Linked DNA regions of Homo sapiens. The protein of the gene in region 1 purifies or fractionates together with the protein of each later gene. This does not show direct contact. Each region holds a gene or a part of one and is shown in the gene's direction. Other genes may lie near its edges. The genes, in order: PREX2, ARHGAP18 and NT5C2.

Evidence for each region.
Region 2: the proteins of PREX2 (region 1) and ARHGAP18 purify together in Homo sapiens (affinity purification with mass spectrometry; one large-scale study listed by BioGRID and IntAct). This does not show direct contact.
Region 3: the proteins of PREX2 (region 1) and NT5C2 purify together in Homo sapiens (affinity purification with mass spectrometry; one large-scale study listed by BioGRID and IntAct). This does not show direct contact.

Annotation. Positions count from the first base shown.
Region 1 is NC_000008.11:68,112,394-68,116,048, forward strand, and holds part of PREX2 (phosphatidylinositol 3,4,5-trisphosphate-dependent Rac exchanger 2 protein), read left to right. Parts: intron 1-3,359; coding exon 3,360-3,539; intron 3,540-3,655. UniProt on the Homo sapiens protein: Functions as a RAC1 guanine nucleotide exchange factor (GEF), activating Rac proteins by exchanging bound GDP for free GTP.
Region 2 is NC_000006.12:129,700,024-129,703,678, reverse strand, and holds part of ARHGAP18 (rho GTPase-activating protein 18), read left to right. Parts: intron 1-3,655. UniProt on the Homo sapiens protein: Rho GTPase activating protein that suppresses F-actin polymerization by inhibiting Rho. Rho GTPase activating proteins act by converting Rho-type GTPases to an inactive GDP-bound state.
Region 3 is NC_000010.11:103,183,215-103,186,869, reverse strand, and holds part of NT5C2 (cytosolic purine 5'-nucleotidase), read left to right. Parts: intron 1-3,655. UniProt on the Homo sapiens protein: Broad specificity cytosolic 5'-nucleotidase that catalyzes the dephosphorylation of 6-hydroxypurine nucleoside 5'-monophosphates.

The DNA of each region.
Region 1 (3,655 bases):
GAGAACAGACTTCATTTTGCAGGTGCCAGACGCCTCAGGATTGAGTGGTGAACAAACCACACTTTAAGACAGTTAGTAACCCGGGGGTTACAGATAGGAATGGTGGTGGTGGTGGTGGTGGTGGTAGAGTAATCACTGAGGTTTCCCCAAGCATTTTGCTACTAAATGTACAACAAGAGGGGCACACCATAAAAGCCAACTTTTTTATAGATGCTTATTTGCCAGGCAAGATTACATTATTATATACATTGGCTTATTTCATTCTCACAGTACTTCTGTGAGTTGAGTTATGAAACACCGGGATGCACCCTACTCCCTCCAGAGTGTGCAAGTTAGATGCAGGGAGAGGAAATCCTGCTTAATTTGCACAGGATATGTATGTAACAATATGTCTTGCCTACCCCACCTCTAAAATGGGGAAAATAATAATACCTACTTCATAAGGTGGTTTTAGAGATTAAATGAATTCATACCTGTTAAGGACTTAGCATCGTGACTGTCATGAAAGCTGAACAGATGTTAGCAATGATGATGATGTTTAAAAACACACAGGTCATTGCAACATACTGTATACAAAAATCTTTCTTATCAATGGCACAAGGAGAAGATTCACCTGGAATTGCATGCTGCTGAAGGTTTTAATTAATGGACCTCTAGTAGGTAACTTAATATTTTATACCAATGAAAGTGAAGGGATTTCTGCAAGCACAAATATTATGGTTTGATGCCTTGTTGCTTTTCAGAATCTAGAAATTTTATGCAAAACATGGTGTTAAAAATACAGTTTTTCTATCATTTGTTTGTAAGCCTAACACTTGTCCCACGGGGTCAATGCAAGCATGATTGCAGCTGTTTTAAATAAAAAGCAAATATCTGAATACAATTCATATAACTTTGAAAAAAATTATGCTTAGCCCCATGACTTCTAATTTAAAAGATACATAAGCACAGAGGCCTCTTGGCAAAATGAGAACTCCTGCATTTTTTCCCTCTTTGGTATTCAGAGTTCATCTGTCTGTGCAGCATGGAGCTTGGATAATTGGAGTTAGTCTAATGTTTTAATCTTTTGGGTGGAGAGGGTGAATAAATAGACAATCTGTCTTACAGGACATAAAAGTATCTTTCCAAAGAGAAAAACTGTGTTTAAAATCATCCATAGCTTTTGGTTATTAAAAATGTTCACAGGGCCTCAAGCAATGTAACATAGCTCCTTCAATTTTTCACTGGTGTCTAAAACCTATAAAATGTCAAAATATTGTTCAAATCTCACCTCGCTGTGAGACCTGACCTGACTGCACCACTGTTTGAAGTGGCAGCTTCACGCTTCCTTCCCTGCTTTCTTTTTCTCCTTACCATTTGCTGCCATTTGATATACTAGAAAGTTTACTTGTTTTTACTTGTCTTCTCTCAGTAGAATTTGAGCTCCAAGAAGGCAGGGGCTTTTGTATTTTGTTTTTGTTGTTGTTGTTGCTTGTTTGGTTGGTTTTTGAGACAGTCTCACTCTGTTGCCCAGGCTGGAGTGCAGTGGTGTGATCTATGCTCACTGCAACCTCCATCTCCAGGGTTCAAGCGATTCTCCTGCCTCAGTCTCCTGAGTAGCTGGGACTACAGGCTTCCACCACCACACCCAGCTAATTTTTGTATTTTTAGTAGAGACGGGATTTCACCATGTTGGCCAGGCTGGTCTCGAACTCCTGACCTCACGTGATCCACCCACCTCGGCCTCCCAAAGCGCTGGGATTACAGGCATGAGCCACCGCGCCCGGCCCTTTTGTGTGTTTTATAAACTACTATATCCACAGCACCAAGAACAGTGCATGGTATAATAAATGTGTTTAGTGAAATCACTTAATAGGTATTTATTCAATGCACAGCATTGGGTTTGACATTATGGAATATGCGTAAGAGGTATAAGATATCGTCACCGTCTTGAAATAACAAACATTACATTGCTATGGAAAAATGAGAATCAAGATATGTGCTACTGATTGGAACTGAAAATCACAGGTATTTAGTAAATGCGAAGATGGCTGCTGGCTTGAGAAGCCCTATATGGGTCCTTTGTTTATACATGGTTTAATTCATTTTGCAAGTTTTTTAGCATGCTCTTTGATAATAAAGTTCAATTCCATTTTTGCCTAATTTTGAGTTAGTTGTAACAGAAACATGCCACAGCCAAATGTTCAAGCCTAGAGTGTTGGAGTCAGCAGCTACTCAAAGTCCTCAGCAGGTTTCACACAGTTCAGTCTGACTGCGGCATTTTAGCCTGGAGCCAGGTGGAGGAGCTCTTTCTGTGGGCAGATTTGGGACATTTCATCCTGGCTGGCTTGCAGATTTACCCCATCCTCACATTGTATGTAACTCTGTTTAGTGTCTTGTAATCCCCAAGGCCAAGACTCCTGTTTGTACGAGCAGGGAGACGGATAGACAATCCAATATTCTCCCTGCCAAATAGGGAATGCCTGGGCAAAACCCAAGGCATAGATAGAGGGTAGGTGGGTTTTTAATACTGAATATGAGCCAGTGAGGACATGAAGGCCCATTTATAGTTTGGGTTTAATATTTGGCTAGCACTTTAAAGATTACTGAGTATTTTCTGTTTTTCTTTTCTTTCTTTTCTTTTCTTTCTTTTTTTTTTTTTTTTTTTTTTTGAGTTGGAGTTTCGCTCTTGTTGCCCAGGCTGGAGTACAATGGCACGATCTCGGCTCACCACAACCTCCGCCTCCTGGGTTCAAGCAATTCTCCTGCCTTAGCCTCCTGAGTAGTTGGGATTACAAGCATGCGCCACCACGCCCGGCTAATTTTGTATTTTTTAGTAGAGACGGGGTTTCTCCAAGTTGGTCAGGCTGGTCTCGAACTTCCGACCTTAGGTGATCCGCCTGCCTTGGCCTCCCAAAGTGCTGGGATTACAGGCATGAGCCACAACACCCGGCTGATTACCGAGTATTTTCATAAGGTGGTGATGGTTGTGCTAATGGCCAGGGGCTAGAGGTGACACCCATTATGCACCAGGAATATTCATTCTCACAGCAGTCATGGAAGCCAGTTATTCTCATTATCTCCATTTCACAAGTGTCAAACAAAACTATCACAGCTTTGTTTTAGCTATAGTCATACATGGCACAACCTGTATTTCAATGAAGCTTTCTGGTCTAAATTGTATGTTGTTTGTATGACTTATTTTGTGAAGAACAAGAGAACTTTGAATGACATGCTTTTTATGCAATAGAATATTTACTTGATATGAAACATTGAAGCACTCTAGAAATATTTGTAAGCCTATTGTATTCAGCAAATAAGGTAGTTATATATAGCAGACAGTTTGAAAATGTGCATTTTTTTTTAATATTACATTGCAGCCTTCTGTCTTCAATAACATATTCTCCTAAATTAGAACGTAAGACATCAGAGGGCATAATACCAACAGACAGTGACAATGAGAAGGGAGAAAGAAACAGCAAACGGGTATGTTTTAATGTAGCAGGAGATGAACAGGAAGATTCTGGTCATGACACCATCAGCAACAGAGACTCTTACAGGTAATTCACTAATTCCTCAAACTCATTTTCTTAACAAAGTCAAATATGATGCTGGATTTTCCACAAAGATCTTGAAAAAAGTTTTTGATTGTTTTTCTTTTAATTGGTCTTTCACA
Region 2 (3,655 bases), on another chromosome or scaffold:
GGAAGTCTTAGGTTCATTCACAGACATGTGATATTTGCCTTTTGATTCCTCTCATTGACGAGACCTGTGATTTTTGTGGGCCTATTAAAGTTATATTATCTTCATAGAACTTTTAATTAAGTTTATGCCTTTCGAATATAAGGATTTAGAGATTATCAGAACCATCCCCACCCACACCTTCCTAGAGAAACTTGTTGAACATTTGCTTTGTTGTCCACGGCACATTTATTACTTCTGCATTGTACGATTGCACTGTGCTGCCTTGTCTCTTCTAAGTGGGGCTTGCTTTCATATTTTATGAATTTTCTAATATTTTGAGTTCTGTTATTATTTATCATACTTCTACAAGTGTTGAAGCAATAAAGACTCGTAACAATTGATGCATTTAATGATGCACATGATTGCTACTGGACTGCATGGGTGTTAGGCTTAACTCGTTTTTGATAATTGGACTCATTGCCAGAACAAATTATCTGTTTCACTCTTCTGTTTTAATTCCCCACTGGCTGTAAACATCTGTCTCACAAATTAGAAAAAGAACCCAGCACCCTAGAGGCCAAGGCTGTCCCTGGCCACAGGGATAGTTCCCTCTACTCCTTGCTCATGAATCTGTGAGGTCCATGCCCTGTGGCTGTCTTCTTTCTCCTGCCTCTTTTTCTTCTTCTTTTTTTTTTTGTTTTGGAGATGGAGTCTCGCTCTGTCACCAGGCTGCAGTGCATGGCGCAATCTCGGCTCACTGCAATTTCTGTCTCCTGGGTTGAAGCAATTCTCCTGCCTTAGCTTCCCCAGTAGCTGGGATTACAGGCGTGCGCCACCACACCCGTCTAATTTTTGTGTTTTCAGTAGAGACGGGGTTTTGCCATGTTGGCCAGGCTGGTCTCGAACTCCTGACCTCAGGTGATCCACCCGCCTAGGCCTCCCAAAGTGCTGGGATTACAGGCGTGAGCCACTGTGCCTGGCCCTCCTGCCTCTTCTTGATTCTGTTCTGTCCAAGAGCCCTGAGAAAGCTCTGTCATCATCCTAGTGGTGTCACTGTGATGAGGCCTGTAGGCTGTGGGTCTCAGTGGGAGTCACTAACAGCATGGATCACTCTGTAGGTTTGGGGTTGCTAGACCAGGTATGACAACAATCCTCTCCTGAACCCTGCTGTAGGTGCCCTCTGTCCTGTGCCCACCCTTTCATTTCATACGAATATTTTGAGAGAGATGGTTTGTTCTAAATGTTTTATTCAGTTGATATTTAATGGGCTTTTCTATTTTCTTTCGATAAAAAAGGGATAGAGAATAAGAACTCTCATTATTTGAGGAGAGTGGGGATGAGTCAGGGTATTGGGCATGGATTAGGGCAGGAGGAACGGAAGGGATGTCTAGATCTTTCTGAAGGCACATTCTTTTGACTTCCATGTTTGTTGCTGTGAGCTGGCCAAGTTTATCCTTTTTTTTGCAAGAAATAAACAGAAACCATGGAGACCCGTGTGACCAGTTACTACCTGTAGTTTTTTTCCATACTTAAGTCCACTAAGTATCTGAATTTCTGTGTTGAAAGAGAGTATGAAACCTCATCTCCTTTTCATATGCATTTGGTAGTTGCCTTTTGGCTGCAAAGAACACTGAGGTTTCCTTATGGGAAATGAGGTTTGTTACAGGGATCTGGGTCATAGGGAAAGGAGGCATCTCTTCTTCCCTCAGCAGCTGGTCATATGGGGACACTCATGGCATTTCTGTTCTCTTGGAGACTCTCAATTCTTTTCTACCCACTGGCTTTCTAATCTCATCATTTCAGCTTGAGCTTTTGGCTCCTGATGGATGCCCAGCCTGGTTACCTCCTGAGTCATCTTACATTTCATAGCTAACTGACCCATCTCTTTATTTCCTAATTTCAGTTTTTTGTTTTTTGTTTTTTTTTATTTGAGATGGAATCTCGCTCTGTCACCCAGGCTGGAGTGCAGTGGCATGATCTCAGCCCACTGCAACCTCCACCTCCCAGGTTCAAGTGATTCTCCTGCCTCAGCCTCCTGAGTAGCTGAGATTACAGGCACCTGCCACTACGCCTGGCTAATTTTTGTATTTTTAGTAGAGATGGGGTTTCACCATGTTAGTCAGGCTGTTCTCGAACTCCTGACCTCACGATCTGCCCACCTCAGCCTCCCAAAGTGTGGGGATTATAGGCGTGAGCCACCGCGCCCGGCCTTAATTTCACATTTTTGAAAGGACATCAGATTTTTCCAGTTAATCTTTTTGAACAGGCCATAGTACAACCCCAGGCAGCTTATGATCTGGCTTGTTCTGGATCTTTTTAGAAAAGCAGGGTCTGTGGGTAGTGAGATTCCTGGACAAAGGATGTGGCATCTTTGCTAAGATATTTAGGACATGACACATTTATCTGTTTCCTCATTTATGAAATCATATCGTGTAATGATGCCCTTCCTGCTTCGCAAAGTTAATCATGAAGATCAAATGTGTAACGTTTGAGAATGTTAAAAAATTATGCAGATGAACATTATTACTAAATCCTTTTCTGTACAGTATCTTAAAATTTCCCCAGACATTTCACTTCATTTCACTTAACCAGAGTTGTCATAGTAAACTTTTGAGTTTAATTTGAATTTTACTTTTTTATTATATACTCAGATGTAAGTTCATTGAGGGTGAGAACTTTGCCTGTCTTTTTTTTTTTTTTAAGGGAGGGGTGTTCCTTTATACCTAAGCCTTGGCAAAGTGCTTAGTTCACTTTAGGTAGTTACTAAAAGATTGAATGAATGAATGAGTGTAAGTGGGAGGAGGCGTAGTGATTGCATACACAGATTTTGGAGCTAGATTGCCTGGGTTGAAGTCCTGCTTCTTTCATGTAGCAGCTTGTGACTCTGGGCTATTTAATGTTTCAGGGCCTCAATTTTTTTGTTTCCTTCTGCACACTGGGAATAATAATACCTAACTCAAGACTTATTTTAAGGATTGACTGAGTCAACATATGTAACATACTTACATGAGTGCTTGACATAAAGTACGTGTTTTCGATGATGATAAAGGGCAGTCAGACTGTTACCTGTTGGTGAATTAATTTGGAAATAGTATAGGAAAGCATTGTTGTGATTAATTTGTAAGTCATTTGGGAAATGAATGTTTGCTTCTAATGCATATGCAGTATAATGCCTTTATTTTAAAACTAATAGTGGGATAAGTTATATAAATAGCTCACATTATTTCAATACTACATTTAATATCCAAAAAGTACCCTAAAAAAGTGTTTAAAGGTATTGAACTCTTGTTAGGCCCAGGTGACTGTTTTGAATACCTTTAATGCTTCAGTTTGGGTAGCTATAAAGTTGCAGAGTGTTTGTTACTCTTAATAAGATGGAAAATCATCTAGTGTAGAGCAAGGAAAAGTTATTTGCACCTGTTCCTCAAAGAGCAAATTGACTTTAGGTTATCTCAATACTTGCAGGTAAAAGTACCAATGTATCATTATAGCTAAGTATTTGAGAAAAGAATAATTGTTATACATTTGTGCCCTTAAAATTTATTTATATAAAACAGCTGTTCTTGATTAGGCTGTTCTCATAACCAAGAAGTGATGTTTCATGGGGCAGAGTTCAGCTGAATGTATATCTGTGGCAGAGATCTGGGGGATGTGTTCCCTTCACCCAGTTCTTCTT
Region 3 (3,655 bases), on another chromosome or scaffold:
TCCATGTCAGCTCACTGCAGCCTCCATCTCCCGGGTTCAAGCTGTTCCTCTGCCTCAGCCTCCCTAGTGCTGGGATTACAGGCATGTGCCACCACGCCTGGCTATTTTTTTGTATTTTTAGTAGAGACGGGGTTTCACTGTGTTAGCCAGGATGGTCTCGATCTCTGTACCTTGTGATCCGCCCGCCTCGGCCTCCCAAAGTGCTGGGATTACAGGCATGAGCCACCGCACCCAGCCAGTAAATGCCATTTTTTTAAGCCTTGAATTACTCGTTTACTTTTGAAGTAGGTTTGGTGAAATAAATCTTGAATTAATTCTCTCTAGGTCTGAGAGCTTCCAGGAAGAAAGGAAACAAACCTATAGCTATAGTTGTCCTTATATTTAGGATACTTTAATTGACGTGATAAATGTGTGAAATTGTTACAGCCTCTGATACGTAATGGACGCTATGAGGTTTTGACTCCAAAAGTAGAAGCCTATTACTCATTCCTGCAAACATCAAGTACTGTATTGTGCTAAGGCTTCAAGTATTCAAACATCTTGCACTCAAGCATTATAAACAGTTTATATTGACCAATTTCCATGTCTCAGCCACTGTTCTTAGCACCTTACATCCTTGTTCCAACTCTACCTGTTTTGCAATGGAAGAAACTGTAGTGCTTATAATTTGCTTAGTCGTAGAGCTAGTTGGTGTTAGAGCCAGGTTTTGAACGCAGGCAGTGTGGCTCCAGAATCCGTACTCTTAACCACAGTATAATTCTGTGACTTCAAATTATCTAACTTCTCTTTCCTGTTTACTTCTTCGTAAAATGAGGATAATAGTACCTAACATATAGGGTTGTTCTGAAAAGTCAGTGAGTTAAAATATGTACTATGCTGCTTAGAATCATACATGAAAAATAGTAAGTACTCAATAAATGTCAGCTGTTATTATGTTAGCATTATTAAGGCATCGAACTCATGCATATCTCTGAATTTTAACCAAATAGGTGGACTAAACCTTAAGTATGAATTTATATATTAAAAGGTAGAAATACTGTGGTCTGTGGTTATTTATGCCTTTCCGATTTTATCTTTTTAAATTATTTTGTAACAGGAAAAATAAGAGCTAAACCAAAGTTGAATGGTGAGCAGGAGTTCATTGGTAAGAGAATGAGTTCTTTCCTGAAATAAAGCAGTTTTTTACCTGCTTTTTTTTTTTTTTCCTTTTTTTTTTTTTTGGAGACAGGGTCTTTGTCTGTTGTCCAGGCTGGAGTGTGCAGTGGTGCGATCTTGGCTCACGCAATCTCTGCCTTCCCGGCTCAAGCAATCTTCCTACCTCAGCCTCCCGAGTAGCTGGGTCTACAGGCACCCGTCACCATGCCTGTCTAATTTTTGCATGTTTTTATAGAGATGGGGGTTTTGCCATGTTGCTTAGGCTGGTCTCGAACTCCTAGGCTCAAGGGATCCGCCTGGCTTGGCCTCCCAGAGTGGTGGGATTATAGGTGTGAGCCACTGCACCTTGCCCTATGTATTTTTTTTTTTTAAAGGAGTATTCAGGAGTCATTACTAAAGGTGCAAAGTATTATATATCGTCTGAATGTAAAAATTGTACAGCTGGTTTATACCTTTATGCTTTTGAAGACCTCAGTTAATTATGGCAACGTTTTGAAGAAATAGCTCAGTCTTTTAAAATGTTTTCCTTACATGCTCTCTTGTTCCTTTGTGTCAATAACCATGTTATTGTTGAAGGTCCGGTATTATTCAAAACATTCAGTTAGAAGCAGCCTTAATGTGTTGATGTAGAACAAATATATAGCATTCTATGTGATATGGCAGGATAGTAGCAATAGAATGTTGATGAGAACATAGCAAAATTAGTCTTTTTTGTATATTTTCAAAAGTTTAGGAACAGATGAAATAAATTTGTAGTTTCTAGTTACAATTTCAGACTACAGATAGGAGCATGTAGCTGCTTGAAGAAGAAAAACAAATTGTCAAGGCAACAGGTACTGCATTTCTCACTCGACAAGTTCTCTCTTCTCAACTTTGTTATTTTTCCTTCGGAGAACAAGGAAGCTTTTGTTCCGAGGCCTGATGTTGAAATGTTAGCAAAATATTATGTTAATCAAGCCAAGAATCTTATGTATTTGTGAACCAAGAATAAGATTTCACAAAGATTCATTTAGAGTATTAAAAGGGACTTCTGCAGTTATTCTTGCATTTTCAGGCTTACACAAAAATAGGCTTCTGAAAAGCAAAGGGCTCCATGTGTAGACGTTTAATGGTTCATTTATTTCTGTCTGTTAAGTCTACTGTGCGAGATGCTGGGGATACAGCAGCAAATAAAACACTCCTCTCCCTTATGGAGCTTATATTTTGGAGAGATTGACAGAATGCAAACTGTCAAATGTAAGGGTTATGTGCAAAAAACAAGTAAAGCAGGGTAAGAGGACAGTGAGTGATGTGTGTGGGTAAGTGTGATGTTATTAGTTGGAGTTTGTTAACTGTTGGCATCACTTTGGTGTGTGAACTATTGAGTGTTGGCCTTTGACAGGAATGTGTAGTGCAGTTTGGGACAAGTGACATAAAGAACTCTGAATGAAAATAATGAAATGAAAAATAAACAAAAAAACTTGTTTATAGGCTGGGCACGGTGGCACATTCCTGTAATTCCAGCACTTTGGGAGGCAGGTGGATCACTTGAGGTCAGGAATTCGAGACCAGCCTAACCAACACGGTGAAACCCCGTCTGTACTAAAAATACAAAATTAGCCGGGCGTGGTGGCTCATGCCTGTAATCCCAGCTACTTGGGAGGCTGACGCAGGAGAATCGCTTGAATCTGGGAGGCGGAGGTTGCATTGAGCCGAGATCGCGTCATTGCACTCCAGCCTGGGCAACAAGAGTGAAACTCTGTCTCAAAAAAACTAAAAAAAAAAAAAACCAAAAACTTATCATGAACTATTTAAAAGATGAGAGGTAATGAAACATTTAAGATAATTTAAATGCAACAGTTTCAAGGAGCCTTCTGGAAAAATAGGCATTTCTTCATCTTAAACTATTTTATTTTTTAATTTTTATAGATTTAGGGGGTACAGTTTTGGATATATAGCATAGCAGTGGTCTGGCTTTTTAGTGTAACCATCACCTGAATAGTGTACATTGTACTCATCAGGTAATTTCTCATCCCTCACCCTCCTCCCACCCCCACTTAAAGTATATATATATGTGTGTGTGTATGTGTGTATGTATATGTATATATATATATATGGCGTGAACCCAGGAGGCAGAGCTTGCAGTGAGCTGAGATGGTGCCACTGTACTCCAGCCTGGAAGACAGAGCGAAAGAGACTTCGTCTTTAAAAAAAAAAAAAAAAAAAAGCATTTGTTTAATTATTTTTGCAGTAGAAGAAAAGAAAGGAAGAATGATGCAGAGGCAATATTGAGAGGGATTTGGGGCAGGAATTTTTCAAAATTCATTAGAGTTATTAAAGAACAGTTTAAAACTAGTAATTCCAAGAAGGAGGGATAGATTGTTAAAAAAAAAAAAAAAAAGCTAATAATTTCAGGAAAGAGGGGAGGGAAGGAGTGTGTGATATATATATATATATATATATATATATATATCACACACACACATATATATATATCTCCTTTCATGTGTTTTGTGATGAT